Homo sapiens: one gene and its partners. The protein of the gene in region 3 purifies or fractionates together with the protein of the main gene of each other region. This does not show direct contact. Each region holds a gene or a part of one and is shown on either strand. Other genes may lie near its edges.

Region 1 (7,674 bases), on a different chromosome or scaffold from region 3:
ATAAAAGGCTAAACAGTTATAACACCGTATAAGGACAGGGCATTTTCTTTTTTGTTTTTTTTCCCACAGTGCAGTACAGGGAAGGTAGGTGTGTCATTGTATTCCATGTGTTCACCCATGAATCCAAGTCAGCTGGCAGCTCTGCTCTCTTTGGCATATGGTTTCCATTACCGCTCCAGCTTTCATCATATCCAGGACATGGGGAAGAGAAGAACATGGAAGTATACTCTTGAAATGATCTGAAGCATGAATCACCTGTACTTGCTTACATTCCATTGACCAGAACTCAGTTATATGGCTATAACTAGCTACAAGGGTGGCTGTAAGATGTACTGTTGGAATGGAGCTGGGGAGAATAATTAAATATAATTAAATTATATATATATAATTAAATTATATAAGTGTAATTAAAATAATTTATATCTAAAAGAAAAATAGTTTACAAATTATCCCATTAGCTAGGATTGATTGACCCTTTGTGTGATGGACTCTCTTAAAATTGTTGGGGTATGGGGGAAACTAGAGTATGATCAAGATGTAAGTATGTAATTGCTTTATTTTGATTTTATTTTAGCTTCCTTGTGGTCATAGATGCAAAGAGATGTGTCATCCTGGTGAATGTCCCTTTAACTGCAACCAGAAGGTAAAACTTAGATGTCCTTGTAAAAGAATAAAAAAGGTAAATATTTTAAGTTATTGAAAATACTTTTCTATATAAGTTGTTTTTGTGTGGTTTTCTTGTTCTTGTTTTTTGATCTATGTGTTTTGGTAGTTGTTTGGCTTTTTTTTTTTTTTTTGCCTTTTAATTTTGAGGTTTTACTTCATAGAACTTTTTTATTATTGAAATGAGCCTACTAGTTCTTTAAACATTTATTTTAAACATAAGCTTTGGCGATTTAATTTTCTGCAATTTAACAGTAAAAGGAAAATTATTTTTTATGTTGGAACCAAATTCAATGCCCTGTTTTGGTCAATGTGCTTTAGATTTGAGGTCTTTGAACAAGGAACACAATGTAACGGGTAGAATGTTTCATTGCTTAAGAAATGGCTTGAGATTAACTTTGTTGCTGTTATTTATGAAATTCTTTTTACCATCAGTATTGTCCTTTGAAAATATTGCCTTAAAAAGACCTCATATGAATAGCCTTATAAAGTAAAATAACATGTAAACTTGGAAAGAACTAATTTTAAGATAAAATGATGGTAACAGAGGAGTAAATGGGCAAAAACTAATGATTACAAAGCCTGATGGAAACAAACTATATACTGCTCAACAAAACTTATGAAGGAAAATATACTGTCCTAATAGTCTTTTTCTCAATTCTCTGTTTCCTTGATCTTCCCTGTTGGCAGTGCTTACTCCTTTGAAACCAACTTTTTTGACCTCTGATTTACCCTATCTCAGTTATAGTCGTAACTCCTTTTTTTTCCTTCATATTCCTATTGTCATTCCCTAAAGCTTGTCTTTTTTGTCTCTTGAAATTCGCTTTTATTCATCCATGTGATGGATATGTATTGAGGATCTTTTATAGGTCCTTTGCCTTTCATTTATGTTCATAGTTTCTGATATGTTTTCCTAGGATAGGGAACTTCTGAATTTAAATTTATACACTTGGCCTTTTAGGGAGTGGAATCTTTAAGTTTTAGATATTTAAATTGACCCCCTGTACCTGAAAATAAATACTTGGTCAAGCCATTTTTAATGTGAGATGTCTCTTAAGTTTTCTCTGAAATCTCATGTCTTGTCCAAGTGCCATATGCCACCCACCCGTTAGTACTTTGGAACAACTCTTTTCTGGGCTTTGGCCACAACTTCGTGACCCATTTCCTTGTCTCTAGTCACACCACTTCCCTGTTCTAAATTCTTCAATGGCTCTTCATCACTTATGGAAAAAGTGCATTGTATAAAAAATGTGTATGTGTAGGTATATGCAGACTCGGCATACCAGGGAGGCTATGATAAGACATTTGCCTGCTTGTTCAGTCTCGTCATCTAGCAATCATCTCTGTGAATCTGTTACTTAAGTGCCCTAATACATATATTGTACCCTCGCTTAGCTTAGGCTGTGGCAATGTATATATATTTTTTTCCTGTGTAAAATACAATATGTTTTTCCTTTAGCTCTCTGCTTACTAGAATCCTGCTAATACTTATTGGAAGCACTTCCTTGTTTGAGAAGGTTTTCCTTCCCCAGGTTCCCTTGGGAAGGCTTAGCTGTTCCTTCCTCTTGACTTTCTTTGTACTGGGTTCATAATGTAGAGCTTTGTGATTCTAGGTATCTGTAACCTTGTTTCCTCATCTGTAAAATAGAGTTTATAGAGATTTATTGAAAGGAATAAAAGAGGTAGTGCTTACATAGCATTTAAAACAATGCTATGTTTAATAAATAGTAGCTGCCATTACTATAAAAGAGGTAGTGCTTACATAGCATTTAAAACAATGCTATGTGTAATAAATAGTAGCTGCAATTACTATTGTTATTTATTTAGCACTTAACAGATGATTATACTGTTTATTTCTTACTGTGTTCCATTTCCCTGTCATGGTGTTTAGCATGTTATAGGCACTCTGTAAGTATCCTCTGAATGAGAAAAGATAAAATCCTCTTCTAAGCTGATGGACTTAATGTCTATAAACACACGATACTTATTTTTGTCTCCAGTGTTTGTTCATGTTAATTTTCTTATGTCTGGACTGTCTTTGGAGGACAAGACTATGTTTATCACTAAATCAAGCCAAAAATGAAGAACTAAGGAATAAAAAAAAAAAAACCCTCCAAGTAATAAAATTCCATGCCATAAAATGCTTTTACTAAATGCACTTTACTCAGGATTTGGTAATCTCATGTCTAAGCTGTGGTAGATTTGAACAAAAAACTAGAGTCTGAGGGTCTGGTGAGACAGGAGAAACTGATACAAATTAAATATACTGAGAGTAAAAGTGACATTGGCAGCAATAAATGAATGAATAAAAGATAGATGTACTACAAAAGGCAGTCTAAAACTAATATAAAGACCACTCTTCAACTCAGTAGGTCATCGTTTTATTCTGTCGTAGTACAGAAATTGGTCATAGTTTTGATGTCAAGACATCAAAAACAGTAGATCAGTGTTCTTTCATTAAGGAGGTAGTGAAGTGCCAACATAAGCTTTAGAACAATTTTCATCTAAACTTAAAAAAAGTTTAACAGTCGAGAGAAAAATTTGTAGCTCCCCAGAAAACTCTCTAGAGCTGCACTATCTGAGATGGTAGCCACTAGTCACATGTGGATATTTAAATGCAAATTGTAATGAATTAGCATAAAACAGTATTAAAAATTTGGTTCCTCATTTTCACTACCCACATTTCAAGTGCTCAGTAGCCATATGTGGCTAGTGCTACTCTGTGGACTAATGCAGATTTACAACATTCCATCCCACGCACATACCAGGAAGCTCTGTTGGACAGCACATTTGTAGAACATTGTATTCCCTGGACACTTTGCAAGAATAACAAACAATAAAGAAAAGTAAAGAATAAAAACAACATGGGAGCTAAGTCCAATAGTGGCACATAGTAATTATTAAGTTGATTTTTAAAAATTTTATGGTATTCTCTTTTTTAAGTTAAGAGAAAATAAGCAAGTAATCACTATTTGAAGCAGATATTTAATGCTTGCAACTATATCATCATTAAATATTAAGACATCAAATAATACTTATAACCTTAAGCTATCAGATGAACTTTGCTTTTTTATGGCAGACAGGTCTTTGAGGGAAAAATCATTTAAAATTTGAAAATCGGGTTGTTTGTAGGAATTGCAGTGCAACAAAGTACGTGAAAATCAGGTTTCAATAGAATGTGACACAACGTGCAAGGAAATGAAGCGGAAAGCATCTGAGGTAATGTCTCGTTAAATATCATTTTAAAGACTAGTGGCCTTTCCCTTCTTATTTTGTGCATTTATGTACTTATTAAAAACAACTTGAAATCTCATTTTTTTGCTTTTATAATAAAAGCCTAGTTTTATAGGCTTATTTTGAATGGCAGATTGGGATTTTCATTGCCTAGTGTATATGAAGGCTTTTCATCTTCTATGCCCGTTATAAGATTTTGAGATTCTTTGCTGCTTGGGTTATCTCTAGTGTTACTCTTCCCCTCCATCAACCCAATCAGTGACCTCTTGATTTTGTTTGAAAGTAAGGATTCCCTTCCATGATAGCACATTTAAGATAAATTTAACTCTAGAGAAACAGCAGTATTTAATAATTAATTCTAGATTCTTAATACAGCAACTCAAGAGGAAAAAAGGCAGTTTTAAAATTTGCTGTTACAGTGTTTTAACTCTTTGAATTACGATGTAATACCGATTTTACTTGTTAAGCTGAGATGCTCATATAAGGTATAACACTCCATCCATGACCACCTTCAATTTATTAGATAGTGCCTTGGTAAAACCTTGTCTCAGTATAGCATTTACATTTCTTTAAATGATTTCAAGCTCCTAAAAGTTGATATGGGTTAATAGAACCTGGATGGGTAGATGTTAAAATTCCATATAAAATGTGATGACTAAATTGTAAATTGACTTTTGTATGTGTATAAACAGATAAAAGAAGCAGAAGCCAAAGCTGCTCTTGAAGAAGAAAAACGAAGACAACAGGTAACCAAACAAAATACCCAGATTTATGTCTCTTAGCATCATTGCTAGATTTTGTGCAAACACGGGGTATATTCCAAGGTCAAACTAAGGTCTAGTCTCTATTGTGAACTGAAAATAACAGTTCTTGTAAAACAAAAATGAGCCATCTACTAACTTGACTTTAAGTATACTGAAACTCTGAAAAGGTATGAGATCTCATATATTCCCAAATTTTTTTTTTGTATTTCCAATTTACTTTCTTGCCAATATCATCCATACTTCAGCCAGAAGAATTTTAATTCCTCCTTTGGCTGGGGAGTGAGAGTGAGCGAATCATCACCATTGTAAGGCATCTTCTGGAGACCATGACTTTACTTAACTAAAAGTATTTGAGTTCTATTTTACTGAGTTGCAGACCACCTATAACAAATAAGTGCAGTTTACTAATCAGTACATTTGTTTTAATAATATATTCCCATATTTCCCTATTAGATCTTTAAATGCGGGATTATAACCTGTTCTTTGTTGTTACCTAGAGAACAAGTACATTCCTGATACTCCCTGTTTAAGTATTTACTTTATTGATCATACACTTGAAAGAGTGGCTTGACTTTCTAATAGTGATGTATAACTTTTTATTATTATTTGTCAGTTTGTATCTTGAAATGCTTTATACTTATCAGATTGTATTGTGTGCTAAGCTACTGCCTTTATGAATGATGAGATTGAAACTTGCGTGATTTGCATGAATAAGGAAATTCAAACTTTGATGAGTTGTAGGAACAATTAGAACAATTAGGAACATTAGAAACAATTCATGTAGTAAATAATGGTTGGCCAAGGTGACCTTTGAGATTTTATGGTTCTGTAAAGTTGATTTGCCTGATATCCCCAAAATAAGTTATCAGAGCTAAATAGTAAAACATAAGTTGGCTGGAATCCTAGGAGATTAAGTTATTAAGAATAGTTTAGTATGTTTTCTCCTTATTCCCTTTGCTATCTTTTTATAAATCATCATGGATGAAAATCTTAGATACATTCCCTGTTTACTGACTCTTTAAACAGAATATAATCAGTCCTTAGTATATGTAGGTTCTGCATCTGTGAATTCAACCAACCACAGATCGAAAATTTGTTTCAAAACAAGTAAAAAAAAAAAAAAATAAATAATACGCATTTTAAAATACAGTGTAACACCTATTTACATAGCATTTACATTGTTATTAGGTGTTATAGGAAATCTAGAGTGATTTAAAGTATACAAGAAGATGTTTGTGTGTTATTTGCAAATCCTCCACTATTTATGTAGAGACTTGATCATCCTCAGGTTTTTATATCCAAGGGGATCCTAGAACCAATTTCCTACAGATACTGAGGGATCACTGTATACAGCACATAATATATACTTGGTGACTGTGAGTCACCATTTAACTGTCAGTTATTTTACTGTGTCTGTAGTCCTCAAGTTTGCCTGCTTTTAAGATATTTTGACGTTTTTTATATGTCAGAAACTAACCACTTGGGAGTAGTCTGACATTTTGGCTCATTGAAGAATGCCACTTTGTATTAAACTAAGTTTATTATTAGATCTTTTTCAAGTGTGGTTTATGACCACAGTAATGGATATGTGAACTAAAGTTTACATTTCCTCCTATTAAATAACCATTTACAAAGTTTTAGGTGGATATTATTAAATACATATATATTTTAACTATTGTCTTAATTACCTATGCACTATAGCATATTATATTACATTATTATGTGTAAAAGTTTAATAAGTACTTAGCAGTAGGATAAAAATCCCCATTTGATATTGAATGCAATTCAGTTATCGTCTTTTAGTACTAGTTTAAAATTTTTATGTCTAAAATAGTCATTTTGATTTTAAAGCATGAAGAATTTTTTCCTTTGAAGAATTTTTACTATTTTTAAAAAATGTATTTGGTAGAGAAGAATCGAGTTCTGGCAGCTTTTTTCTCTTTACTCACTTGAATTTCTTTCTTAAAAGCCACTAATGTTTATTGCATGCATTGTAAACAACTAGAATTATAGGTATCTTCATTCTCACTAGGCATCACAGCACTTGCTAGAAGCTTTATAGAATGCTGGTTCTATAATAATTGGGTTGAAGTATAATGGTGTCAATGTATAAGACCAGTGTCTATATTTTAGAGCATCCTGATTTAATAAGACGTTTTATTTTATTTATTTATTTATTTATTTTTTTGAGATGGAGTCTCTCTCTGTTGCCCAGGCTGGAGTACAGTGGCGCCATCTCGGCTCACTGCAAGCTCTGCCTCCCTGGTTCACGCCATTCTCCTGCCTTAGCCTCCCGAGTAGCTGGGACTACAGGCACCCGCCACCATGCCCGGCTAATTTTTTGTATTTTTAGTATAGATGGGGTTTCACCATGTTAGCCAGGATGGTCTTGATTTCCTCACCTTGTGACCCGCCTGCCTCAGCCTCCCAAAGTGCTGGGATTACAGGCGTGAGCCACCGTGCCCGGCCTAATCAGACATTTTAATATTTAGTATCATAGTCAGCCCTACAGTTTGAAATATTCTCTTCTGTTATCTCCCAGTCTCCTTTCTGCTTACCTAAACCCTGAATTTGTTGAATACAATCAGTAGTGGAGAGTAGTGTTTTAAAAAATCAAATCAATATATTGACTATATATCATTACTATTAAAACATTACCCAAATTGATTTTTATGTAAATGGAAACTTTCAAATCAATGTATGCATTGAATTTAATTAAAATGATGCTGTTTTTATTTAGGCTGAACTAGAAGCTTTTGAAAACAGACTGAAGGGTCGTCGGAAGAAGAACAGGAAAAGAGATGAAGTGGCAGTTGAGCTATCACTATGGCAAAAACATAAATATTATCTCATTTCAGTGTGTGGAGTTGTGGTTGTAGTGTTTGCCTGGTACATCACCCATGATGTCAATTAAAAAAAGTTTTGATCTTTTAATGTAACTCAGATTGGATTTAGATAAGTTGTTAAATTTGAAATATTAGAAAATGTATATTATAGAACATGATATATATTT
Region 2 (7,674 bases), on a different chromosome or scaffold from region 3:
GTGTAGAACTTCCCAGAATGACTCCTTTGAAGGAGGCATTCATCTGATATGAGTTGGAATGTTTATTAAAAACAAAAACCAAAAAAATCAATCCCTTGACTTCAGATTCAGCCTTCAGATATAGCTTCCTAATGGCTAGCAGTACTCTCATTTAACTGCATTTTGTATAAATTTTTTGTCAAAAATTTAATGTCATGATAATTTGAGCCCGAGGCTGCAGTGAGCTATGACTGTGCCACTGAACTCTAGCCTGGGTAACAGAGCAAGACCCTGTCTCAAAAAAGAAAGAAAGAGAGAGAGAGGAAGGGAAGGAGGGAGGGAGGGAGGGAAGGGAAAATTCAATCTCACTACTTTAACATCATAAATAATCTTTAGAACTTTGAATACAAACAAATCTGGGGTCTTTTTCCTGCCACAATTTTTGAAATCATATTAAATATTAAAATGTAGCCTGGAAGGGGGGAAAAAGGTCTAAAAGCTACTTTCAGTCTCAGATTTGAGAGAACAGCCCTAGACTTTGTGTTGGTATGATGAGAAGGGAGAGAAATGTATATATGGCAGCTATTTTAGTCCATTTTCGGTTGCTGTCTCACCCTGTTCAGTCCATCTCGCCTTAATCCTTGCATTCATAGTTCCCACTGCAACTTGAGGTTCATCTATCCACTCTTAGAATTATGCTTACATTTTGTATATCTTACAGAAGTAGGGTCTTAGATCTGGGCATTGGGTGGCATAAACCACAGAAATTTATTTCCTCAAAGATCTGGGGGCTAGCAGTCCAAGATCAAGGTGTCTGGCAGGTTTGGTTCCTTCTGAGGCGTCTCTCCTTGGCTTGCAGTCACCACCTTCTAACTGTGTCCTGACATGGTATTTCCTCTGTATGCATGCATCCCTGGTGTCTCCTTGTGTGTCCAAATTTTCTCTTCTAACAAGGACACCAGTCAGATTGGATTAGAGCCCACCCTAATGGCCTCATTTTAACTCAGTCACCTCTTAAAACTGATAGTTAAGATACAGAGCAGTTAAGATAGTGTCTCATTGTCATGTGCTGGCAGAAGATGTTTTAAATGAAACTCCTGTGAACTCATTCATTCATTTGTTTAGGTTTGTTTGTTTGTTTGTTTGAGACAGAGTTTCACTCTGTCGCCCAGGCTGGAATGCAGTGGCGCCATCTTGGCTCACTACAAACTCTGTCTCCTGGGTTCAAGTGATTCTTCTGCCTCAGCCTCCCAAGTAGCTGTGATTACAGGAGTGCACCAACACGCCTGGCTAATTTTTGTATTTTTAGTAGAGACAGGGTTTCACCATGTTGGCCAAGCTGGTCTCGAACTCCCGACCTCAGGTGATCCACCTGCCTTGGCCTCCCAAAGTGCTGAGATTACAGGCATGAGCCACTGCACTTGGCCTCATTTAGTATTTTTTAAACATCTATACAGTTTTAGGCAACAAGGGAGACAGGAAGACTGTCCTCAGGAGGTTAGCAATATACAGGGCATAATGAGCAGTCTTTCGAAGCAGGAATTGTCATATCAACTCTTATATCCCCAGCACCTTACACACTGCCTTGTAAATAGTAAGCTGTTCCAAAAAGTTGATATTGATCTGAAATGAATCCCTGTGCAGAATTTCTAAACCTGGTCGAAAAAAGCTCCTTTAGTGTTCTATTAATAGCTACTTTGTATTTAGGTAGAGCACTAAAGAGAAGCAAGCCATTACAGAGAATACTATACCAAGGAAGATATTTCCACTTCCTTTCATAGCCTTGCTACTTCCTCAAAGTAAGGTCCGTGAAACAGCAGCATGAGTCTCACCTGGGAACTTATTAGAAATGCAGAATTTTATGCCTCACCCTAAATCCACTGAATGAAAATCTGCATTTTAGCAAGCTGCCAGGTGGCTCCTATGTAACATTAAAGTTTGAGAAGCATTGCCTTCAGAGACCCCTTATTAACAGTGTTTGGTAGATCTACTTAAGATAGAATATAAGACATAATGAACAAGGTGGATGTTCTCAGGCTGCAAGCCATATAACATAGTGGTCATTTTCTTTAGGAGTTATACATTTGCACCATAGGTTAGGAGGTGAAAGCTGGGTTGAACTGCTTTCCTTTACCTTTAAAAATAACGTTTTTGGCTGGGCGCAGTGGCTCACGCCTGTAATCCCAGCATTTTGGGAGGGCGAGGTGGGTGGATCACCTGAGGTCAGGAGTTCGTGACCAGCTTGGCCAACATGGTGAAACCCCATCTCTACTAAAAATACAAAAATTAGCCAGGTGTGGTGGCACACACCTGTAATCCCAGCTAATTGGGAGGCTGAGACAGGAGAATTGCTGAGACAGGAGGCGGAGGTTGCAGTGAGCTGAGATCGCACCACTGTACTCCAGCCTGGGTGACAGAGAAAGACTCTGTCTCAAAATAAATAAATAAATAAGAAAAAAATAATTTTTAAAGCTGGTCTTTAATAGCTCTTCCATTTTCCTTACTTCCTTGCTTCTCAAGTAACGTAACCACCAACAAATCCCTTCGAAGGTAGAAGAGGAAAATGACGATATTAATAGGAGCCACAGTTACCATTAATTGAGCACCAACAGTTCTTCCAGGCACCATGCCAGGCCCTTTACATACTCAGAACAACCCTCCTGGGTAGATGTCATTAACTACATTTTACAGATGAAGAAACTAAAGCTCGGATCAATAACATGACTTGTACAACTTTCCATAACTAATAACTGACTGAACTGTGATGTGAACTACATCTGTAGGACCCGAAAGCCTGTTCTTTCCCTGCTACACCTGTCTTATTCCTTCCTCCATCCTGGAATTCCTGCCACCCACAGGGTTCAAAGGTAGCCTTTTCACCTCTGATTGCTGCCCATGGCTGATTCACCTCCAGTTTCTGCAGGTTAGTAATGTAGCTTTATAATTACAGTAATTGCTAACATGCATATTGCACTTGATAAAACATTTCTATATACCTTCTCTTGTCCAATCTTAAACAACTCTGCAGTTACAGGTGATGATATGGGATTTTATCTTTTTACTTCTTATGAGTTGCAAGTCTTTAGAAGTGGGGAAGAGGAAAATGGTCTTTCACACTAGAGTGTGAGGTTTACAAAAGGGAACAATATTTCTCACCACTGGACTGTAAGTTCCTTGAGGACAGAGAATGAATCTTACTTATTTTGTATTCTCAGGACAAGTATAGTGACCGCCATGGCTAGGGGATGTATAACCATTTATTGAATAAATGGTTTTAAATACCTAACTTCTATATTTCTATGTTTGAGTGAGGTGAACCCTAAGTACGGAATAATTAATGTTGTTCCTTGATCCCAGCAAATCTCTCCTCTTCCTCTTCATGGGCCTCTGTCCCCAGTAAGTGGCACCACTTGTCCCTTTAGTCTCCCAGACTAGAAAGCTTTCCTTTGCATTCACCTCATCCTATTAATCATTGTCGTCTGCACAGGCTGTCATTAGAAAATAGCATAGACTGGTGACCTAAACAACAGAAATTTATTTTCTCGCAATTCAAGGCTTTGACATCCAAGATCAAGGTTTTGGCCAACTCAGTTTCTGGTGAGGACGTTCTTCCTGGCTTGCATGTGGGTGCCTTCTCTCCATGGCCTTTCCTCAGTGCCTGTCCACAGACAGCAAGAGGCTCTGGTCCTCTCTTCTTAGAAAGACATCAATCCTGTTGGATTAGGGCCCACCCTTATGCCATCATTTAATCTTAACTACTATACTTCCTTAGAGGCCTCTCTGGGTGTCGTTAGGGCTTCAACATATGAATTTTGTGGGAAGACAAACATTCAGTCCATAACAATCACCAAAGCTGGCCAAATAATTGGATGCCAATATTGCATCCAACTGCAGTCATGTCATTTTGGTCAATGATGGACTGCATGTATGATGGTGATCCCATAAGATTACATTGGAGCTGGAAAATTCCTGTCACCTAGTGATGTCCTAGCAGTCATAACACCTAACATCGTCCTAAGGCAACACATTACCTTTACTATGTTTAGATACGCAAATACTTACCATTGTGTTACAATTACCTACAGTATTTGGCACAGTAACATGCTCTACAGGTTTGTAGCCTAGGAGCAATAGATTATAACATATAGCCTATGTGTGTAGTACACTATATCCTCTAGGTTTTGTGTGACTACATTCTATGATGTTCACACAATCATGAAATTGCCTAGCAATGAATTTCTCAGAGAGTGTCTCCATAGTTAAGCAGTGCATGACGATTTCTTAAATCTGTACATAATTTAATCCACTATTTGTTCCACTTAGGTTATTCACTGATTTTATTCAACAAATAGTTGTGTTGGCACAGTGGAGAACATCATCAACATAGTCCTTGTCTCTATAGAGCTTCACTCTAATACAGGAAACAGAAATTAAACGAACAGGATAGTGATTAAGAACATAAGATTTGGCCAGGCGTGGTAGCTCACTCCTGTAATCCGAGCACTTTGGGAGGCCGAGACAGGTGGATCATTTGAGGTCAGGAGTTAGAGACCAGCCTGGCCAACACAGTGAAACCCCGTCTCTACTAAAAATACAAAAATTAGCCGGGCAGTAATGGTGCACACCTGTAATTCCAGTTACTCAGGAGGCTGAGGCAGGGAGGTTGCAGTAAGCCAAGATCATGCCACTGAACTCCAGTGGCAACAGAATGAGACCCTGTCTCAAAAAAAGAACATAAGACTTACTAGAATGCCTGGGTTGATACTGGCCCTGGGCAAATTACTTAACTGTTTATGTCTGTTTCATTAGCTGTAAAATGAAAATAATACTAATATTTACTCATAAGATTGTGTGAAATATTAAGACTATCGCATTATGCTTACTTACTACCTGTCATGTAAGTACTAAGTAGATGTTAGCTATGATTATTAAATATAAACACAAGTCTATTACTCATTTATGCAAATGCCTCCTAAGAAGTTACACTTTTTCACATTTTTGTCTCCCTCAAATTCGTTCTCTCTAGTGCCACTAAAATAATCTCCAGTAATGTCACTGCTTAAAACCCTTCAGCAGCTCCCCGCTGCCTACGGGAGAGAGGCTAAGCTGGTAAGGCAGCCAGCAATGCACTCATGACCTGCTTCTTGCCCTCCCCTCCAGCCTCATCGCTCACCACTCCCTGCCACAGCTTTACCCTCCAGCAATGCTGAACTCTGTGGTGCACTGTGCTATTCTTGCCTTTGTCCCTTTATTCACATTGCACTTCTGTCAGGAATATGCTTTGCCTGACTAATTCATTGCCAGCTCTTTGACACTCAGCTCAGGGGCCTCCTCCTCTGGGAGACTTCTCCTGTAAACCCCAAAATACAAAAATAGATTTTTTGGCCAGCTTCATTGTTTTATGTGCATATCTCAATCATTGAACTAACAAGCTGTACTACCAGTGTTTGTTTATAAGTGCCTCCCACCCATATAATGAGCATCTCCAGGGCAAAACTGTCTTATCTGTCTTTGTAGCTCCAGCAGCTAACGATGCATATGACACATAGTAAATTTTCAATGAATGTTTGTTTAAGGACTGAATGGATGACTTAAGGAGTTAAACTTTAATATAATGGAAGAGATCTGCAGAGCACTAGAAAATGAATTAAATCATTTTGGACTATGCAGCAGAACAAATCAAACTTATAAGTTTGTTAGTGTTAGAAGAAAAGTGTTGCATCTATTGTTTCTCAGCTTCTTTAGGTACATCTATTAATATTTATTACAACAATTTCTTTTCACATGTAAAGCACTGTGCTAAGAGTTAGGGGTATGAGATAAAATCTCTGTTCCCAAAGAGCCTAAAGCATAGTGGATGAATAGCACTTCCCTTTGCAAAGCTAGAAGGCAAGCTGGACACTCACCTTTCCCATGACTTCCAGTGACCTTGAATTTACAAGTCATGTCTCAGTATATAAGTACAGGATATGGGTAAGACAGACCTTGGTACATAAAGCATTAAAATGAAAGTGCTATACTAGAAATGCAAAAATGCAATGGGAACATGGAGGATACAATAACTATGACTAGGTGGCATTTTTTTTTTTTTTTTTTGAGATGGAGTCTCACTTTGTCGCCCAGGCTGGAGTGCAGTGGTGTGATCTCGCCTCCCAGGTTCAAGCGATTCTCCTGCCTCAGCCTCCCAAGTAGCTGGGACTACAGGCATGTGCCACCATGCCCGGCTAAATTTTTGTATTTTAGTAGAGACGAGGTTTCACCGTGTTGCCCGGGGTGGTCTCGAACTCCTGAGCTCAGGCAATCCGCCAACCTCGGCCTCCCAAAGTGCTAGGATTACAGGTGTGAGCCATTGCACCCAGTCATATTTTGCTTTTATAAATTTTTTACTGAAGTTTATGTTTCTATAATTTATACAGAAAAAAATTTAAATATAGAATAGTAGAAAAAAGAAGTATGAAAATCATATGAGGATAATCATCCCACTATCCTGAAATAGTAACTCAATATTTTGTCATATTAAAAATATATTGCACATAATAACAATCTTAATGAAATTCTTAAAAAGAAAACAAAAGGAAAAGCCCATTGTCCTGCCATCAAGCACAAATCAAATGTCCCATTCTAATCTTAAGAGTGATTTTCTTATAGGGTGGTATTTTTGCTATAGTTTCCTCAGGGTTGAGTGCTATAATTTGGGAAGACTAATTTTAAAAATGGAGCCGTAGAGATTTATCATACTTCTTAAATTTACTACTCTATTATTGGATTGCTTTTAGGAGACACTGAGTTCTGTATAGACAACAGGGGAAAGGAATAAAGCTTTGTTCTGAAGTCAAAGCTTCTGAGTAATACAGCACTGACTGACATTTAACTCAATTAAACAATTCAGCTTTGCTGGGCTAGTAACACCATCTTTGCAAACAAAAAAGCACAACCCACGTATGCTAGGCTGCTCCACCTGTACACTAGCATGGCTGTAACACAGCCTACTGCACAATCCATACTCAGTCTTTGCTTATTCATTGATTCATTCAGTAAACATTTTTTGAATTCCTGCTTTGGGCCAGGCATTACACTAGACTCTGGGAATACAGTGGTGAGCTAGGCAGACATTATGGAGCTAAAAATATCCTCTTCCATCTTTGGTCTTCCTGCAAGTGGTCTGTTGCCCAAAGCAGGGGTCCCTAACCCCCAGACTGCAGAATGGTACCAGTTTGTGGCCTGGTAGGAACTGGGCCACACAGTGGAAGGTGAGCAGTGGGCAAGCATTACTGTCTGAGCCCCACCTCCTGTCAGATCAGCTGGGGCATTAGGAGCGAGAACCCTATTGTGAACTGCATATGCAAGGAATCTAGGTTGCGTGCTCCTTGTGAGAATCTAATGCCTGATGATCTGAGGTGGAACAGTTCCATCCCCAAACCATGCCCCCTCCCACCCTAGTTCATGGAAAAATCATCTTCCACAAAAGCTGTCCCTGGTGCCAGAAAGGTTGGGGACCTCTGGCCTAAAGTATTCCAACCAGCCAGTAAGTGTTCCTGGCCCAGACACACAATGTGACCTTTTCACTGCAGAATAATCTAGTCCAAAATGCCAGTGGTTTACTTTACACTCCAAATGCTGACCGTAGCTATTTTTGCAGGAAGAATAACCATTCCATTGCTTAATTCTATACCTGCCAAAACATTAGTGCTATAT
Region 3 (8,546 bases):
GGGTCCCTGGCACCAAGCTGGATAGGGCGACAGGGGAGGAGAGCCGGGGACAGGGACCGAGTGTGGAGAGAAATTTGGATGGGCTTCAGGAGCCAGCCGAGGGGGAAAGGCTGAGCCAAGAACACAGACTTGGGGGAGGCTGGCCAGGACAGGGTGGGGTGGGGGCAGAGCCCTCATCTCCCTCCAGTCCCCTAGGCCAGGCTGCCAGGGGGCCCAGTCCCACCTCCATCTCAATCCCCTCCCCCTGGCACTTAGCAGCCATTATCGGGGGAGCAGATTGCAGCCCCCTCCCCCTCTCTGGGAAGCAGGCACAGCTGGGGCCCCACCACATCTGCTGCATCCGCACGGAGCACAGCTGGGTGTGCCCAGAGCTGCACTCCCCAAAACACAAAGGGGGTGGAAAGGGGTGGGTGGGGGCCAAGGAGAGCCCAGACCCCTGAGACAGACACACTGACACCTCTGCCAACAGACACATACTCTTTGAGGCGAAGCTACACCCACTGACACACGCTCCCTCGTGTGCAGAGACGGGAGAACTGGCAAACATGCAATTACCCGGCCCCGCCTGCCACCCCCGCTCCCCTTCCCCAGCCCCTCCTGCTCCCCTTCCTTCCCTGAGGCTCCCCTCTGCCGCCATGGCCACCTCTGAACTGCCCTGGGCTCTGGTGTGGAGGGAGTGGGGGACCTCACACACCCCAAGTACATCCTGGGAGGCTCAGAGAGCAGGAGGGCAGGGGGTGGTGAGGGGTGTCTGAGTTCAAGGGGTGATCTCTGGGAAGCCATCTGCCCTCCTTCCAAGCCCACACCCCTCCCCATGAAGAAGCCCCCTCTGAAATTGATCTTTGCCACAGCCTGGGCACTACAAGGTCTCGGTGCCAGCGCTGATCGCTGCGGCACCCTTGTGCTCCACTGGCCACCTCAAGGGGGTGCTGTGTGTTCTCAGTCTAGCCTTCAGCTCAGCTGCTAGGGTTGGCCCCTGCCACTGCCCCCACCCCCAAATCCGCCCGTTCTCGATCCTCGGTAGTGCGTCCCTCTGCTGCCCCTGACATGCATGGGGTGTGGGGGGCGGGGGCTCTGTCAATGGCAGAAAAGTCCCCCTCTCCTAGGACAGAGGAGAGAAGGATCAGGAATTCCTTCTCTCCTCTCCCCGTCGATGACCACCTCTTGGCCCCTGATGAAACCCTGCCGTCTTCACAGCCCTCACTTTTCCCACTTATCTCCTTGGCCCTAGTGTCTTGCCCTCAACCTTCTCCTCCCTGCCCCACCCCCCAATTCCCACACCGCTCCCCACATGCCCCTCGGAGCTCTAATCCCTCCTGCTGCTGTGCCGCCTTATCTGCTCCCAGCAGCTTTCGCTGCTGCAAAGCCCTCTCCCCCTCCTTCCTCAGCTCTCTCCGCTCTCTGACCAGCACCCCCTCCCGGCCAGCCTGTCTCTGCCACTCAGGCCCCCGCTGTGGCTACTGGCTGACACCGCCTCTGTACCCCATGCCCTTTGCCCTCTGCAGCCTCAGCTCCGAGGTTGTCGGCTGCACACCCACTCCCACGATGGCTGCGTCCATCCCAGCCCTCCCCCGCAGGCCCCACAGACTTTGTTAGTTTCTGGCCAGCCAGGATTTTTCATCTTCCTGCCCTCCCTTTCCTGGTGTCTTCCCCACTTCCTCCTGATGCCCCCATCCCATCTTGGACCTGGTGTCCTTATAGTCCCAGGGACCCGTTGCCTTGGCTTGGGAGTACCCGAAAGGAGATGGGAAGTGTTGGTATGAAACTCGGGAGAAGGTGCTGGGCTGGGTTGGCCCTAGAAAGATGGGGTGGGGGTGCAAGGAGTACTGGCGGACAGTGGGGGCAGGGCCTGGCGGTGGGACGCTAACCCTCTTCAGTCGCCTCAGATCACGTTCGGGACTCCCCACCCCCCTTCTCTGGGACTCTCATTAACCGCTTCTCCTGCCTCGTCCGCGGCATAAATAACCCAGATAAATCAGCCGCCGTCCGCCCCCCGCCCCTCGGCCCCTGCACAGCCCGTTTGTCACCGCTGTGTGCTCACCAGCCAGGCCTGGACCAGCCCAGCCCCAGCCCCCCCATCCTTGTCCCTTACCGCCCACATCTGTCCCACACTGGCTCATCACTTGGTCCGCACCAGGGCCAGGTGTCTGGGCTGGGGAGGGTGTCCTCTGGGTGCAGGGGGAGGGAGGCTGGGCATCTTTTGGAGAATGCTGTCTAGGAGTTCAGGGGGTCACAGCATTTTTGAATGGGGCCAGCCAGGCAAGGAATCTGGGCATCAGCTTGGGGGTTCCTGTGCTTTGAGAAAGCACCCTTGGAACCCCCCAGGTTGGATCCTGGGAGGTCTCTGGGTCTGCCTTTGGGGCACTTTGCCCAAACAAAATCTCCATGCCTCCTCCCAGGAACCTTGAGCCAGAAACCCACTGCTCTCCCTGTCTCTCCCCCCGACTGCATGCACTGCCCCCCCCCCACATTCTGCCCTGTTACCAAACCTCGTCCCAGTCCATCTACCACTCATTCTCACTGTCAGGAAGCTCATCCCCTGGGGGGCGGAGGCAGGTGAATTGGACTGGGAATAAATCTGAGGAATGGGGACAACCAGAGAGCAAAGGAACCTGGGATGAGGCTTCACATTCTGACCCCGCAACACCCAGCTCCCCGGCACTCCCAGTCCAGGGTCCCTAACAGCCCTGCCCCCTTTGCTCACACCCAGCTCAGGGCCTGGCCAGCCACACTTGTCCCTGATGCCTCACTGCAAGGGGCAGCTGGTCCCCCGGGAGTGGGTGGGGGAAGCAGGGAGGGGTGGGGGAGCTTGGGCGCAGGGCCGGGGTGGGGGTGGGGAAGAAGCTGGGCCGGGCCCCAGGGACCAGCTGGGCAATGAGCCGGGGAAGCAGCCGGGAGGCTAAATGAGGGAGATTATCACCCAACTGCAGCCGGGCAGAGAGGGAGGCAGGCAGGGAAGCGGGGAGAGGGAGGAGAGAGGGGACGGGGCCAGAGGCAAAGGGGGTATAGAGAGACAGGGAGGGGGCCAGAGGGCCTGGTGAGAAGCGGAGGGAAAGGTCAAGAGATGAGCTGGAAGTATGGGGGCACTCCCTCAGAACATCACCAGATTCCTGGAGATCTGGGAGACTGGAGGCTGGGGGCTTGGGGACAATTGGAGACAGCTGGCTGTGGGGCAGTGGTGGGGGTGTGCATGCAGCTAATTGCTGCTCCACTTCCTGGCAGCCTGGAGCTCCCCTCACAGCACCCCCCGCATGCCCCTTATACCCAGTTACCACCCGATTTCTTTCCTTATAGAGGTTGAAGGCATCCTGCCTACCCTCAGGAGGAAAGAGGATGTGATTTGTCTCATGATGGAGGCCAGTATGTTGTCGGGGAAGTGTGACCCCAAGATCTCAATAGATGGTGGGTGAATTTAGAGATATGTATGCACTCCAGGGTAGCAACGAGTGCTGCGGAGAGTTTGGGGGGCAGTTTCCCGCTTTCTTGGCAAAGCCCCAGACTAAAGTAACCTTAAAAAGCAATTAAATCACCTTTTAAAAAAAACAGTAAAGAAAAATCAATATTAGGAGAAAGGAGAAGAGAGAGAAGGATGGGGAGGAACAGTGGGGGGAGTTCTGGAAAGGTTTGGAAGTCTACCAGGGAGGGGAGAGCATAGGAGGCGGCTGCCTGGGCATGGGACAGAGAGAGGGGGCTGTCTGTGGTCACTTGGCCACTTTCAGTGCTAACTCAGCGGCTTTGTCCAATGCCAATCCCACTTTCCCTTCTGGGACACTATGTCCCAGCCAGATGCATCACCCTGCCCCAGGGGTCTTATCTTCCCAGCTTGGGGAACCAGCTGACCCAGACTCATTGGAGGCTTGTGGGGAAGCCCAGCTGTGGGGTCCCTGGGGAAGCCACTTTGCCTAAAGGCTAGGGACAACCTAAGCAGGGCACCACGCATGGTCAGGGCTGGGTGTGTGGGCAGGCTCCATGCTGGGGTGACCCTGATGGGGCCTGACCTGGCCTTGCAGCCAGGGTGGGCAAAGTGGCTTCCAGCTGCTAAGGGAGCCATCCCTAGGCCCCTCCCCTGGGGCCAGGCAGAGGCTGCGGGGCCAGGCCTGACGCAGGGGGCGGGGTGGCCGTTGGGCAGCGGGTGGACCTCGGGCTCTAATCCCCAGCAGCTGCCGTTTCCCTCAGATCGATTCCTTTCTCACTTTTTTTCTCAGCTGCTGGTTCTGCGGCTTGGATCGATGGAGCCACCTCCCCCCGCCCGTCCACGCTTCCTCTCCCTGCTGCTCATTAGCGCCCCGATTAATCAGCCCCCCTTTCCTCCCGGGGACAAGGGCTTCCTCCCCCGTGAGGGCACATGCTGTCGGATGGGGCCCCAGAGCACAAGCACTGATTCTTGCCACCCCCACCCTGGGGGCATGGATGCATCCCCTCCTGGCCAGTCAACTGAGGCTCCCACCCCCACCTATGATGATGGCCCACATGCCTGTTCCCCTCCACGAGAACACAGCAGACCCCTTAGGGCTCTCCTGCCCCACTCTGCCAGGCACCCCTCAAACCCCTTTCTTTAGGAGAGCATTCGCTCCCATTGACGCCCAGCACATCTTCCTGCTCCCTTCCACGCCCCCACTGGGGCTCTTCCTCTCCCTCCATTGCATGCCCTGTCCCCCTACATATAGAGCACCCCGGAAGCACACCTCCCCTTTGCTCCCTGGCTTGCTTACCCAACAGCCCTCCCCCGAAGCCTGGTTGTGGCAAGGGATTTGGGGAACATTTGGGGAAGCAAAGTGGCCACAGATATGCAAGCTGGCCAGGGTGCTGTCTGTCCCAGACATATGAATGACTGAGATTGGGGTTGGGGGCAAAATGAGGGTGAGGGCAGCCAGCCTCCCAGAGGGGGCAGGGGCATGGTGGGTGTTGAAGTCTGGAGCAAAGCTCCAGGGAAGCTGAGAATCTTGAAGTCACAGTTGTCCCCTGGTCTGTCTAGCCTGCCCTCCTCTGCCCCCCTCCCTCCGTCATTCAAACAAGTGGCTCTCTCAAGGAGTTTCTGGAAGCTGCTGTGAGTCGGGTAGTGGGATCAGGTGGTGGCTGGGTGCTGGAGTCAGGAGTCTCAGAGGCCAGGAGGTGGGGGGATAGAGTTGGCTGACCCTTCATGGGGTGTGGGCCAGGAAAGTGGCAAAGAATGAGCTGAGGACCCTGGGCACGGCACCCTTCCCTGGGTGGCCAGGAAGTGGGGAGATCTGGGGACCCAGTGAGCGGCTAGGGTGCAGCAGGAGTTTGGGGGATAGCCCCAGTCTTGGGATCTCTGTCCTGGGCTGGGGACTGCCCCCTCCCCTGGCCTGGCTCCTGACGCCCGTGCTGCCGGTGAAACGCTGTTGACATGTCCTGAATTATTAAGCGTGGGGAGGGCTCCGGAGCACATGCTGAGCGGAGCGGCTGGGGCTGCGCGGCGTGGCGGAGCAGCGCTCGCTCCCTCGCTCACTCGCTCGCTCGCAGGGACACACGCAGGGGCTGACAGCTGTGCTGGTGCTGATAAGGGAAGCCACAAGGAGACGATCGAGGAGAGAGACAAGCGGCAGCAGAGGCAGCAGCGGCAGAGGCAGCACCAGGGCTGCGGAGCTGCTGGGAGTGGGAGTGACTCCCCCACCTCGGGCCCCCACCCTGTCCCTGTCCTCTTCCCGCTTGCCCTGAGTTTAGAAGAGCAGCCGCTGCCACCACTGCCACTCGGGAGGGCACCAGGGCTGCTGGCTAGGGAGGGACAGGGCAGGGAGGCTCTGGCCAGTCCCAGCAGCCGGGGACAGATGCCGATCGAGATTGTGTGCAAAATCAAATTTGCTGAGGAGGATGCGAAACCCAAGGAGAAGGAGGCAGGGGATGAGCAGAGCCTCCTCGGGGCTGTTGCCCCTGGAGCAGCCCCCCGAGACCTGGCCACCTTTGCCAGCACCAGCACCCTGCATGGACTGGGCCGGGCCTGTGGCCCAGGCCCCCACGGACTGCGCAGAACCCTGTGGGCACTGGCCCTACTCACCTCGCTGGCTGCCTTCCTGTACCAGGCGGCTGGCCTGGCCCGGGGCTACCTGACCCGGCCTCACCTGGTGGCAATGGACCCCGCTGCCCCAGCCCCAGTGGCGGGCTTCCCGGCTGTCACCCTCTGCAATATCAACCGCTTCCGGCATTCGGCACTCAGCGATGCCGACATCTTCCACCTGGCCAATCTGACAGGGCTGCCCCCCAAAGACCGGGATGGGCACCGTGCGGCTGGCCTGCGCTACCCAGAGCCTGACATGGTAGACATCCTCAACCGCACTGGCCACCAGCTCGCCGACATGCTTAAGAGCTGCAACTTCAGTGGGCATCACTGCTCCGCCAGCAACTTCTCTGTGGTGAGTTCTGCCAGCTGGGCTGCCTGGCCTTGGATGGCCGGAGGCTGGGGAGTGGGGAGGAGTGGTGGCAGTGGTGTACAGGGGCATCCTCAACAGGGCTTCCCTTCATTCCACCACCAGAGGCTGGCCTCGTGTTTCCCCAAGCCTGGCGTCTCCCTCTGGCTTCCCAGCCATGGAGCAGTGGCCGCTCATAGGGGCTTACCCTGGGGCGCCTGCTGCTCCTCTTCTTGGTTTTGCTGCTGCTGCAGTGCCCAGGTCTGGGAGTTGGGGTGGGGGTTCCTAGGCATGGGCCCAGGTGTCCTGGAGCTGGCTGGCTTGCAGGGAACGCACGCACCATCCCAAGGCCAGACCAACTGACTCTCACTTTTCTCTTGCTCCCTTTTTCTTCTGAGGCTACTGGATTCTTCCCACCAAACGAAGGAGATAGGGAGGGGAGGTTTGGGGGGCTCCATCTAGGGAAGGACCCCGGGTGGCCTCCTGGGGAGCTGGCCTGGTGGGCAGGCTGGAGAGACCCGGTCTTCAGGACACTGGGTGCCAGTGTCTCTTCTGGATCTCTGTGTGTCTCTCACATGCCTGCCTCACAGACTCCCTCACACATCCCTCTTTCATTCTGCCCTCCAGCCCTCCTGGGGTCCAGTCCCCCTCTGTCTCCTGTTCTAGCGGCTCCCATGCCCAGCTCTGGCTCTTACACTGGGAATCACTGGTTCACTCTTATGTGCATAACTCACCCTCACTGCTGCCCCAGCACGGGTGCATGCACACATGCACACGCACACACGCACACGCACTGCTGGGGGACACAGTTTCCTGCACACTCCCTCTCTCACTCACTGTCCCTGTCACTACACTCACATGCACACCTGCACACCCACACCCAGAGAGCTACTCATCTCCATGTCTAGCTCCCAGCTCTCGCTTAGCTGCCAAGGACAGGGTCCCACTGTGGATGCCATCCCTTCTCATGACACCCCCACCCCCATCTATCCCAACCGCTGCTCCCCATTTGGAGACTGCTGGCGCCATCTGTCACCTACGTGTGAGCACAAACACAAGCACCCTCTCCGGGAGAGGGGTGTGAGCTTGGGCTGCTCTGCCATGCACGCCTCCCACAGTCAGGTATGTGAGGGGGTGGGCGTGTCTTGTACACTGCCTGTCTGTCAGGGCTCCATTCACCCATAGTCACAGGGTATCTAGTATTCATGGCGCTCGAGATGCTTGTCCCTAGTCCACAGTTTGCTCCCAGCATTGTGTGTGCATGCGTGTATGTTTCATCCTCGTTGCCACTGCCCAGTGCATATGCAAATGTTTGGCGTCAACATGGTGCCCACTCCAGCCCAGCCTCCAGCAGCCAGCCCCAGTGATAGGGACCCCCGCCAGGTTCTCACTCACCCGCTGCCTCAGGATCACCAGGAAACATGCTCCAGCCAACGAGGTTCCTGGCCCCCACCATGCCTGCAGTGTCTGGGGCCTCCCGCCATTGGGCAGGGGAGTTAGGTAGAAATAGAGGGACAGGAGCAGGAGCATTGTGCAGGGAGAAGAGTCGGGGGCATTGGCCTGTTGTCCGGCTGTACACCCCCTTTCCTAGGGAAAAGCACTGCTCCCCAAAGCAAGGGTTGGTAGAGTCCCCGAGGAGGAGGTGGGATATGGAGGGTGAGTGTGGCCTTTGGGATCCATAGGGCTCTGCTGTCCTCAATCCTCACCACTCCGTATTGGGAGCTGGGCAGAGCTCAGTCTTAGCAGGTGCTGTTGGGACAGAAATCAATGGGATCTTTGTGTCCCCGAGCGGGAGTTGGGGGTGGGCAGGAAAGGGGAAGGGTGATGAGACCTCAGTGAGAGGAAAGGAGAGGAAGAGCTGGAGGGGGTGAGGAAGTAAGGGGAGGGAGGCAGAGGGTTCTGCTTGGTCTCCAGGCTAGGAGGCGGTGCCTGGAGGATACAGGAACGGGGATCCTCTGATCAAGGCTGGTGAGTCCCCGGAATCCTGGGGATGGCCTGGAGGAGTGTGGGTGGATTTCCCACAGGCCCTCTGGTACCCTGGGGCTGGAGAAAGGAGGATGGTAGAAGTCCGTGGGCTGAGGTTCTGGCCCTGGTGCAGGACAGTGGGGGTAGAGGGCATAGCTAGCATTGGGGGACAGGAATTCCCCTTTGGGATTTCCATTTCCCCTGTCTCCAGCCCAG
Region 4 (7,674 bases), on a different chromosome or scaffold from region 3:
GTTTGGCTTGGGTGATTGGAGGCACTGTGGGCCAGTGGTCCCTGCCTGGGGTGCAGGGCACAGGGGAGCCTAAGTGACTGGCAGAGCCTGGGGGAGAGCAGAGCAGGCGACAGAGCCCAGAGGGTAAGCTGGAGGGCAGAGGGCGGACACAGGGGAGGGCAGACAGAACAGAAGCGGACAAAAGGAAGGGCCATGCCTCCCCCTTCCCAGGCCCACTCACCAAGGACGATGAGCTCTGCGTAGGCCTCATTGTTCCCCTGGAGGTCCTGGGCTGAGACCACGGAGCAGTAATACACACCACTGTCCCCCCACGCCGTCTGGTCAAAGGTCAGGTCAGCATCTGAGTCGGGATGAAAAGGCGTGAGGGCACCTTGGAGGCTGGGGCACCTAACCCCTGGAGGGCCAAAGACCCCTTCCCAGCACACCCAGGAGGGGGCAAGCAGTGGGCTGGGCAGGCTGCAGATGATCAAATGCATATGCAAAGATTCCTACCAAGGGCACACGGCCTTTTACACCCCGTTCTAAACACCTGGACTACTGCAAGAAGTCTGTGAGGCAGGACCATTATCACTTCTGTTTTGTGGATGACATTTCGGGTCTGGAAAAGCTGCACAGCTCTTCAGTATAGAGCAGTAATGGTGCCCTCGGAGCCTGAGGTTGTTTTTTTTTTTCTTTCTTTAGAGACAGGGTCTCACTCTGTGGCCCTGGCTGGAGTGCAGTGGTGTAATTATAGCCCACTGCAACTTCAACCTCCTGGACTCAAGCAATCCTCCCACCTGAGTAGTTAGGACTACAGGCACTCCACCATGCCCAGCTTTTTTTTTTTTTTGTTTGAATCGGAGTTTCACTCTTGTTGCCCAGGCTGGCATGCAATGGTGCGAACTAATCTCGGCTCACTACAATCTTCGCCTCCCAGATTCAAGCAATTCTCCTGCCTCAGCCTCCCATGTAGCTGGGATTATAGGCACCTGCCACCACACCTGGCTAATTTTTGCATTTTTAGTAGAGATGGAGTTTCGCCATGTTGACCAAGTTGGTTTTGAACTCCAGACCTCAGGTGATCCACCCCCACCTCAGCCTCCCAAAGTGCTGGGATTACAGGCGTGAACCACCACACCCAGCAGTCTGTGCTTCTCAACTTACAGCCATCTCTGAACCACCTCTCAGAGCCAAAGTCAGAACTCCCCTGATGTGAACTGCCACCCACAGGGCCTAGTGTAGACCCCAGGGATGGGTGTGGAGATAAACAGGCCAGATTCTAGGTACCAGGAGATGCCCAGGCACCCATAAGGAGTGGGTGTGTCTATGTGGGAGAGAGAGACTTACCCTCCCAGTGCCTTGGTTCCTCCCCCTCCCCTTCCATCCCCACATTCCAGGTCAGGCCCAGGGCTTGGGGACGCTCTTGTCTGAAGCAGCTGCAGGCAAGGAGCCTGTTAACTCTACCATCCATCAAAGTGTTTTGGCACATCCTGTTTCCTCTCTGCTTCTCAGGCACTAATTAAATACCTTCAGCCTTTCACCAGGGTGGGACCAGGGCACCTACCAGGCAACTCTGCCTTAAGCCACTGGGGACAGAAGTAGGCTACATTGGGCATCTCGGGCAGGAAATGCCCTCAGCTTCCCGGCCTCTTTCCTCCTAGCCTGACCTGCCTGCCACCTTCCCAAGGACGCGCTGCCCTCCTGCATGACAGCTCTGTGACGGCAGCAACCACGCGTGCTGCAGTCCACAGCACCTGGCACCCCCAGGAATGAAAGAACCCTTGCTTTCTTCATAAGGAAGGCCTCATGTCTACAGAAAAATCCTCCTTGCAACAGTGTCTGGCTACAGCATTCCAGACGCCTTCCCTAAGGTCCCATAGTCCCATGGTCCCCAAGGCCCTTGGCACGACGTGGTCTCTAGCTACCGTGCCAGCCTCACCCCTGCCATCGCCTTGGTTCTAGATTTGCACTGTCCCCCTGTGGGCTGGGCTTCTCCCACGGCTCCCCCACCCAACTGCTGAAGTCTTATCTCCCAGCTTAGGGGCCGACCATCCTTTGCCTGGTGAAAATGTGGGCTCCGTGAGGCAGAGCCCTGTCTGTCTCAGCCACTGCTGGGTCCCCAGTGCCTGACACAATACCTGGCAAGGAGCAGAAATGAACACCCTCTTGGCCGGACATGGTGGCTCACACCTGTAATCCTAACACTTTGGGAGGCTGAGGCAGGTGGATCACTTGAGGTCAGGAGTTCCAGACCAGCCCGGCCAACATGGTAAAACCCCATCTCTACCAAAAATGTAAAAAATTAGCTAGGCATGGTGGCACGCACCTGTAGTCCCAGCTACCCTGGAGGCTGAGGCAGGAGAATTGCTTGAACTCAGGAGGCAGAGATTGCAGTGAGCTGAGATTGCACCACTGCACTCTAGCCTGGGCAGTAGAGTGAGACTCCATCTCAAAAAAAAAAGAAAAAAAAGGAAACGAACCCCCTCTCCTCATGCTAAAGTCCCTTAGCTTTTGTCATCTGTCTCATCATTCTGGGCACATGGCTGGATTCAAAGACACATTTCTTTCTTTCTTTCATTCATTCATTCATTCATTCATTCATTCATCCTTCAACAATAATTACTGAGTACCACCTATGTTCTAGGCAGTATTTGAGACACCTGGGATACCACAGCAACAGTTCTCAAACTGCAGCCTCTAGACCCTGGGGTTCCCCAAGACGTTTTCAGGAGATCCTGAGGTCAAAGTTATTTTCCCAACAATACTAACTGTGGAGTTTTCCAGAGGCTACGTGACATACAATAGATATCACAACAGACTGAAGCAGCTCTGAGAAGCCAGGCTCTTCTATCCAGCCAGGCTTCGGAGACTTGCAAAAAAATAAAACCATGCCACCTTCTCATTCACAATGTTTTGTCTGATTTCAGAAAATGATTATTTTTTTCATAAAAGGTATTTTATTTATGTTAATCTATAATGACTTTATTGTCATTTAAACTATTTTGTAAACTTTTCTCATTCTGCTGCCTATGAAAACAAACTCTTTGAGCTCTTAATTTTTTTTTTTTTTTTGAGATGGAGTCTCGCTCTGTTGCCCAGGCTGGAGTGCAGTGGCACGATCTTGGCTCACTGCAGCCTCTGCCTCCTGGGTTCAAGCGATTCTCCTGCCTCAGCCTCTTGAGTAGCTGGGATTATAGGCGCCTGCCAACATAACTGGCTAATTTTTGTATTTTTAGTAGAGACAGGTTTTTCACTGTGTTGGCCAGGCAGGTCTGGAACTCCTGACCTCAAGTGATCTGCCCGCCTGGGCCTCCCAAAGTGCTGGGATTCCAGGCATGAGCCACCTCGCTAGGCCTGAGCTCTTAATTAACCTCAAAATCAAGAATATAAAAGAGGCCTAAGCCCGGAACCTTTGAGTTATAAATCCTTGCCCTTGCCCTTCTAGAGTTCAGATTCTAACTAGGAAAGAAAGACAAATATAAAATGTTAACTATGTCACATATCAGACAAAGATAAGCTGTATGGAGAAAACGAATCAGGGACAGCAGAGAGTGCCAGGCGTGGAGTGGGGGCTGTGCCATTTTAAACAAGGAGGCCAGGGAAGGCTTCCGGATATGGTGACCTTCAGAGCAGATGTGAAGGGGTTGAGGACACGACTTACCCTAATGATCAGGCATCTAAGCCACTGTTTTTTTGTTGTTGGTGTTGTTTTTTAATTTTGAGATGGGATCTTGCTTTGTTGTCCAGGTTGATCTTGAACTCCAGGGCTCAAGTGATCCACCTGCCTCAGCCTCCCAAAGTGCTGGGATTACAGGCATGAGCCACCGCCCCTAGCCCCCACCGTTTATTGAGCTCTTACTATGTGCTGGGCCCCTCTACACACATTCTTTCATTGAATCCTCATAGAATTCCAAACTAGGTTCTCCTAAATCCCCAGGTTTGCCACAATGCCCTCTTCGTCCATCATTTTTCCACCTGTATCTTTTTTGAGAGGGCCTAGCTTGGTCGCCCAGGCTGGAGTGCAGTGGTGCGATCATGGGTCACTGCAGCTTCGAACTCCTAGGCTCAAGCAATCTTCCCATCTCCAGAGTAGCAGGGTGTGCCATCATGCCCCGCTAAATTTATTTTTTTGTAGTCTCTGGGTCTCACTGTGTTGCCCAGGCTGGTCTCCCAGCTCCTGTCCTCAAGCAATCCTCCTGCCTCGGCCTCCTGAAGTGCTGGGATTACAGGCATGAGCCACCAGTGTCTTCAGATCAGACCCTGACCGTGCCTCTTCAACACTGGAGCTCAAGAGCTGGTCCCTGCTATAAACAAAAGAGGTGGACAGGAACCGCCTGCCATGGCAAACAGATCATATAGGCCAGGGGTTGAAATCTGGCATCTTGTAGGCCGAGGCTGGACCTCACTGTGTTTTGTTTGACCTGTCTGACATTTTCAAAACTCACAAAAAATATAGTTTTCCGGCTTCTTTTGATCCATCCTAAGGTCTGGGCACACCTTCTTCCTGCAGGGCGTACCCTGTTCCTGGTCTTGGGCTGGCCGTGATCTCATCCGGGCTGAGCACTGCTTTCATTGTTTTAGGTCGGGGAGAAGATGCCAGGTCTCCAGTGGGAACAGCAGCCAGGCCTCCTCCACATCTCCAACCTCTGGTTCCTTCTTTATACACCGCAAAGGTGACCTTCATGATTTCAGAGGTCCCATGGGCTCTCTGCTGCAGTGCAGCTGGAGGTGGGGGCACTTGGACCCCAAGGAGCCCGAGGAGGTGGAACAGGGCCTCCTGTCCAGGTGCTGGTCCATCACCCAAAGCATGGAAGGACAAAGCAGGGAATGAGCCACCGGACCGGAGGGATGCCTGGAGTGGACAGCCTTCTACCTTATCCAGGACTATTTTCACTTTTGAAACCAGGATAGGCCGGGCATGGTGGCTCACATCTGTAATCCCAGAACTTTGGGAGGCCAAGGCAGGCAGATCACCTGAGGTCAGGAGTTTGAGACCAGCCTGGCCAACATGGCGAAATCCCATCTCTACCAAAAAGATACAAAAATTAGCCAGGTGTGGTGGTGTGCACCTGTAATCCCAGCTACTCAGGAGGCTGAGGCGGGAGAATCACTTGAACTTGCGAGGCAGAGGTTGCAGTGAGCTGAGATTGCACCACTGCACTCCAGCCTGGGCAACAGAAAAAAAACAACAACAACAGAAAAACCCCAGCACAGTGGGTGACCCTAGGAACACCACGGGGAGTCCACTTTTCCCCATCCTCAAAGCTGAAACAGAGGAAGCTCCTATGGCTATGGGATTTCCTGAAAGGACACACACAATGGATGTTTACACTCAGGGCCTTGATCAAACACAGGCCCAGGTGGGGGTGGTTTGAAAGACCCAGGCCTGTGAGGCCCCTGGAGCATGCAGGGCCCCTTCCCCGAGACAGAGCCTGGGGGGTCATCCTGGACTTTTGCGTCCAGCAGAGGAAGCACCCTCAGTATTTGGCTTGTCCTGGCAGAAGCTTAGCAGTCACGCCTGGTCCAGGCAGGCACAATCCCTGGGTTAGAGAGGAGGGGGCCTAAGCAGCCCTGTGACCTCAATAACAGTAGGATGCTCATGGCTGAGCTGCCCACAGAAATTCAGGGCAAGCAAGCCTGGTGCCTCCTCTGAAACAGGACTGACATAGGCTCAGCCCCTGGAACCCTGCTTCCCATCGATCCTCTAGCAGAATGTGCTCCAGTTCCTGGCTTCTTGGGGTCTGCAAAGGGATGCTCCCTTCCCCGCTCTGCCCCATGCCCAACTTTAAATTCTTGTTTAAGACAGTGAACACACACTAAGACATGAGGTACGTGAGCCTTCATCCCTGGCACCCTGCCCCTCCCCTTCCTCTCTGCCTTCTAGGTTCTGTAAGGCCCAGGCCCAGGCCCTCCTCAAATCATATTCACAGCCCAAGTCATTCCATGTAGCACATCACCCAGTGCTATTTTCTTTTTTCTTTTTTTTTTAAGACGGAGTCTCACTGTTTCCCAGGCTAGAGTGCAGTGGCGCAATCTTGGCGCACCGCAACCTTCGCCTCCCAGGTTCAAGCGATTCTCCTGCCTCAGCCTCCCGAGTAGCTGGGATTACAGGCGCCCACCACCACGCCCGGCTAAATTTTGTATTTTTAGTAGAGATGGGATTTCACCATGTTGGCCAGGCTGGTCTCGATCTCCTGACCTCAGGTGATCCACCCACCTCGGCCTCCCAAAGTGCTGGGATTACAGGTGTGAGCCACTGCGCCCAGCCTATTTTCTTTTCATTTCAAGACAGGGTCTCACTCTGTCACCCAGGCTGGAATGCAGTGGCACGATCATGACTCACTGAAGCCTTGACCTCTCAAGCCCAAGCAATCCTCCCACCTCAGCCTCCTGAGCAGCCGGGACCACAGGCACATGCCACCATGCCCAGCTAATTTTTAAATTTTTAAAATTTTTGTAGACATGGGGTCTCATTTTGTTGTCCAGGCTGGTCTCAAACTCCTAGGCTCAAGTGATCCTCCTGCCTTGGCCTCCCAAAGTGCTGAAATTTACAGGCATGAGCCAATGCACCCAGCCTGGTGTTATTTTCTTTGCAACACTTAGTACTCTCTGACATTCTTATACCTTGACGGAGTCTTTTTTTTTTTTTTTTTTTTTGAGACAGAGTCTCACTCTGTCGCCCAGACTGCAGTACAGTGGTGCGATCTCAGCTCACTGCAACCTCTGCCTCCTGGGTTCAAGCGATTCTCATGCCTCAGCCTCCTGAGTAGCTGGGATTACAGGCATGTGCCACCATGCCTGGCTAATCTTTGTATTTTTAGTAGAGACGGGGTTTCACCATGTTGGCCAGGCTGGTCTGGAACTCCTGACCTCAGGTGATCCACCCACCTTGGCCTCCCAAAGTGCTGAGATTACAGACGTGAGCCACCGTGCCCAGACTTTGAAATTCTCATACTCTTTCTTTATCTGCTTATTTACTGCCAGTCTCACTCCACCAGAATGTCATCTCCTTGACGACAGAAACTTCAGCCATCCCAATCACCTCTATCCCCAGCACCAACGACACATAGTCGATGCTTGATAAATACCAAATGAATGAATGAATGACTGCCCCTTACTTAGTCCCAACAGGCACATCCTATCAGGAGGCAGCATTACAGTTAAGAACAAGGGGCCGGGCGCGGTGGCTCACGCCTGTAATCCCAGCACTTTGGGAGGCCGAGGCGGGCGGATCACGAGGTCAGGAGATCGAGACCATCCCGGCTAAAACGGTGAAACCCCGTCTCTACTAAAAATACAAAAAATTAGCCGGGCGTAGTGGCGGGCGCCTGTAGTCCCAGCTACTTGGGAGGCTGAGGCAGGAGAATGGCGTGAACCCGGGAGGCGGAGCTTGCAGTGAGCCGAGATCCCGCCACTGCACTCCAGCCTGGGCGACAGAGCGAGACTCCGTCTCAAAAAAAAAGAACAAGGTTCTCAGGGCTGCCTGGGTTCAAACCCCAGCTCCAGACTTTGACTTCCTATGCACCCATTTGAACAAGGTAACCTCTCTGTGCCTCAGCTGTCAGGAGGGTAGAGGAGAGGACTCAATGGGAGAATATGTGTGCAGTTCCTGGCATGTCACAGGCTTTCTCCATTAAGCTCTCTTGCCCCTGCAGTTCACTCCTGCCATCTCCTCTGTGAGTCCTCTGCGGACCA

What was found.
Region 1: the proteins of ASIC4 (region 3) and NFXL1 purify together in Homo sapiens (co-immunoprecipitation; 2 studies listed by BioGRID and IntAct, with this or other methods). This does not show direct contact.
Region 2: the proteins of ASIC4 (region 3) and CNNM1 purify together in Homo sapiens (affinity purification with mass spectrometry; 2 studies listed by BioGRID and IntAct, with this or other methods). This does not show direct contact.
Region 4: the proteins of ASIC4 (region 3) and LSR purify together in Homo sapiens (co-immunoprecipitation; 3 studies listed by BioGRID and IntAct, with this or other methods). This does not show direct contact.

Annotation. Positions count from the first base shown.
Region 1 is NC_000004.12:47,848,064-47,855,737, reverse strand, and holds part of NFXL1 (NF-X1-type zinc finger protein NFXL1), read left to right. Parts: intron 1-574; coding exon 575-679; intron 680-3,795; coding exon 3,796-3,882; intron 3,883-4,589; coding exon 4,590-4,643; intron 4,644-7,401; coding exon 7,402-7,575; 3' UTR 7,576-7,674.
Region 2 is NC_000010.11:99,332,239-99,339,912, forward strand, and holds part of CNNM1 (metal transporter CNNM1), read left to right. Parts: intron 1-7,674. UniProt on the Homo sapiens protein: Probable metal transporter.
Region 3 is NC_000002.12:219,508,936-219,517,481, forward strand, and holds the start of ASIC4 (acid-sensing ion channel 4), read left to right. Parts: upstream 1-5,789; coding exon 5,790-6,371; intron 6,372-7,760; exon of another isoform or gene 7,761-8,151; intron 8,152-8,269; exon of another isoform or gene 8,270-8,333; intron 8,334-8,546. UniProt on the Homo sapiens protein: Does not exhibit measurable stand-alone pH-gated sodium channel activity but may form pH-gated heterotrimeric sodium channels. Its activity could also depend on alternative gating mechanisms.
Region 4 is NC_000019.10:35,251,611-35,259,284, reverse strand, and holds part of LSR (lipolysis-stimulated lipoprotein receptor isoform 2 precursor), read right to left. Parts: intron 341-7,674; coding exon 221-340; intron 215-220; exon of another isoform or gene 1-214. UniProt on the Homo sapiens protein: Probable role in the clearance of triglyceride-rich lipoprotein from blood. Binds chylomicrons, LDL and VLDL in presence of free fatty acids and allows their subsequent uptake in the cells.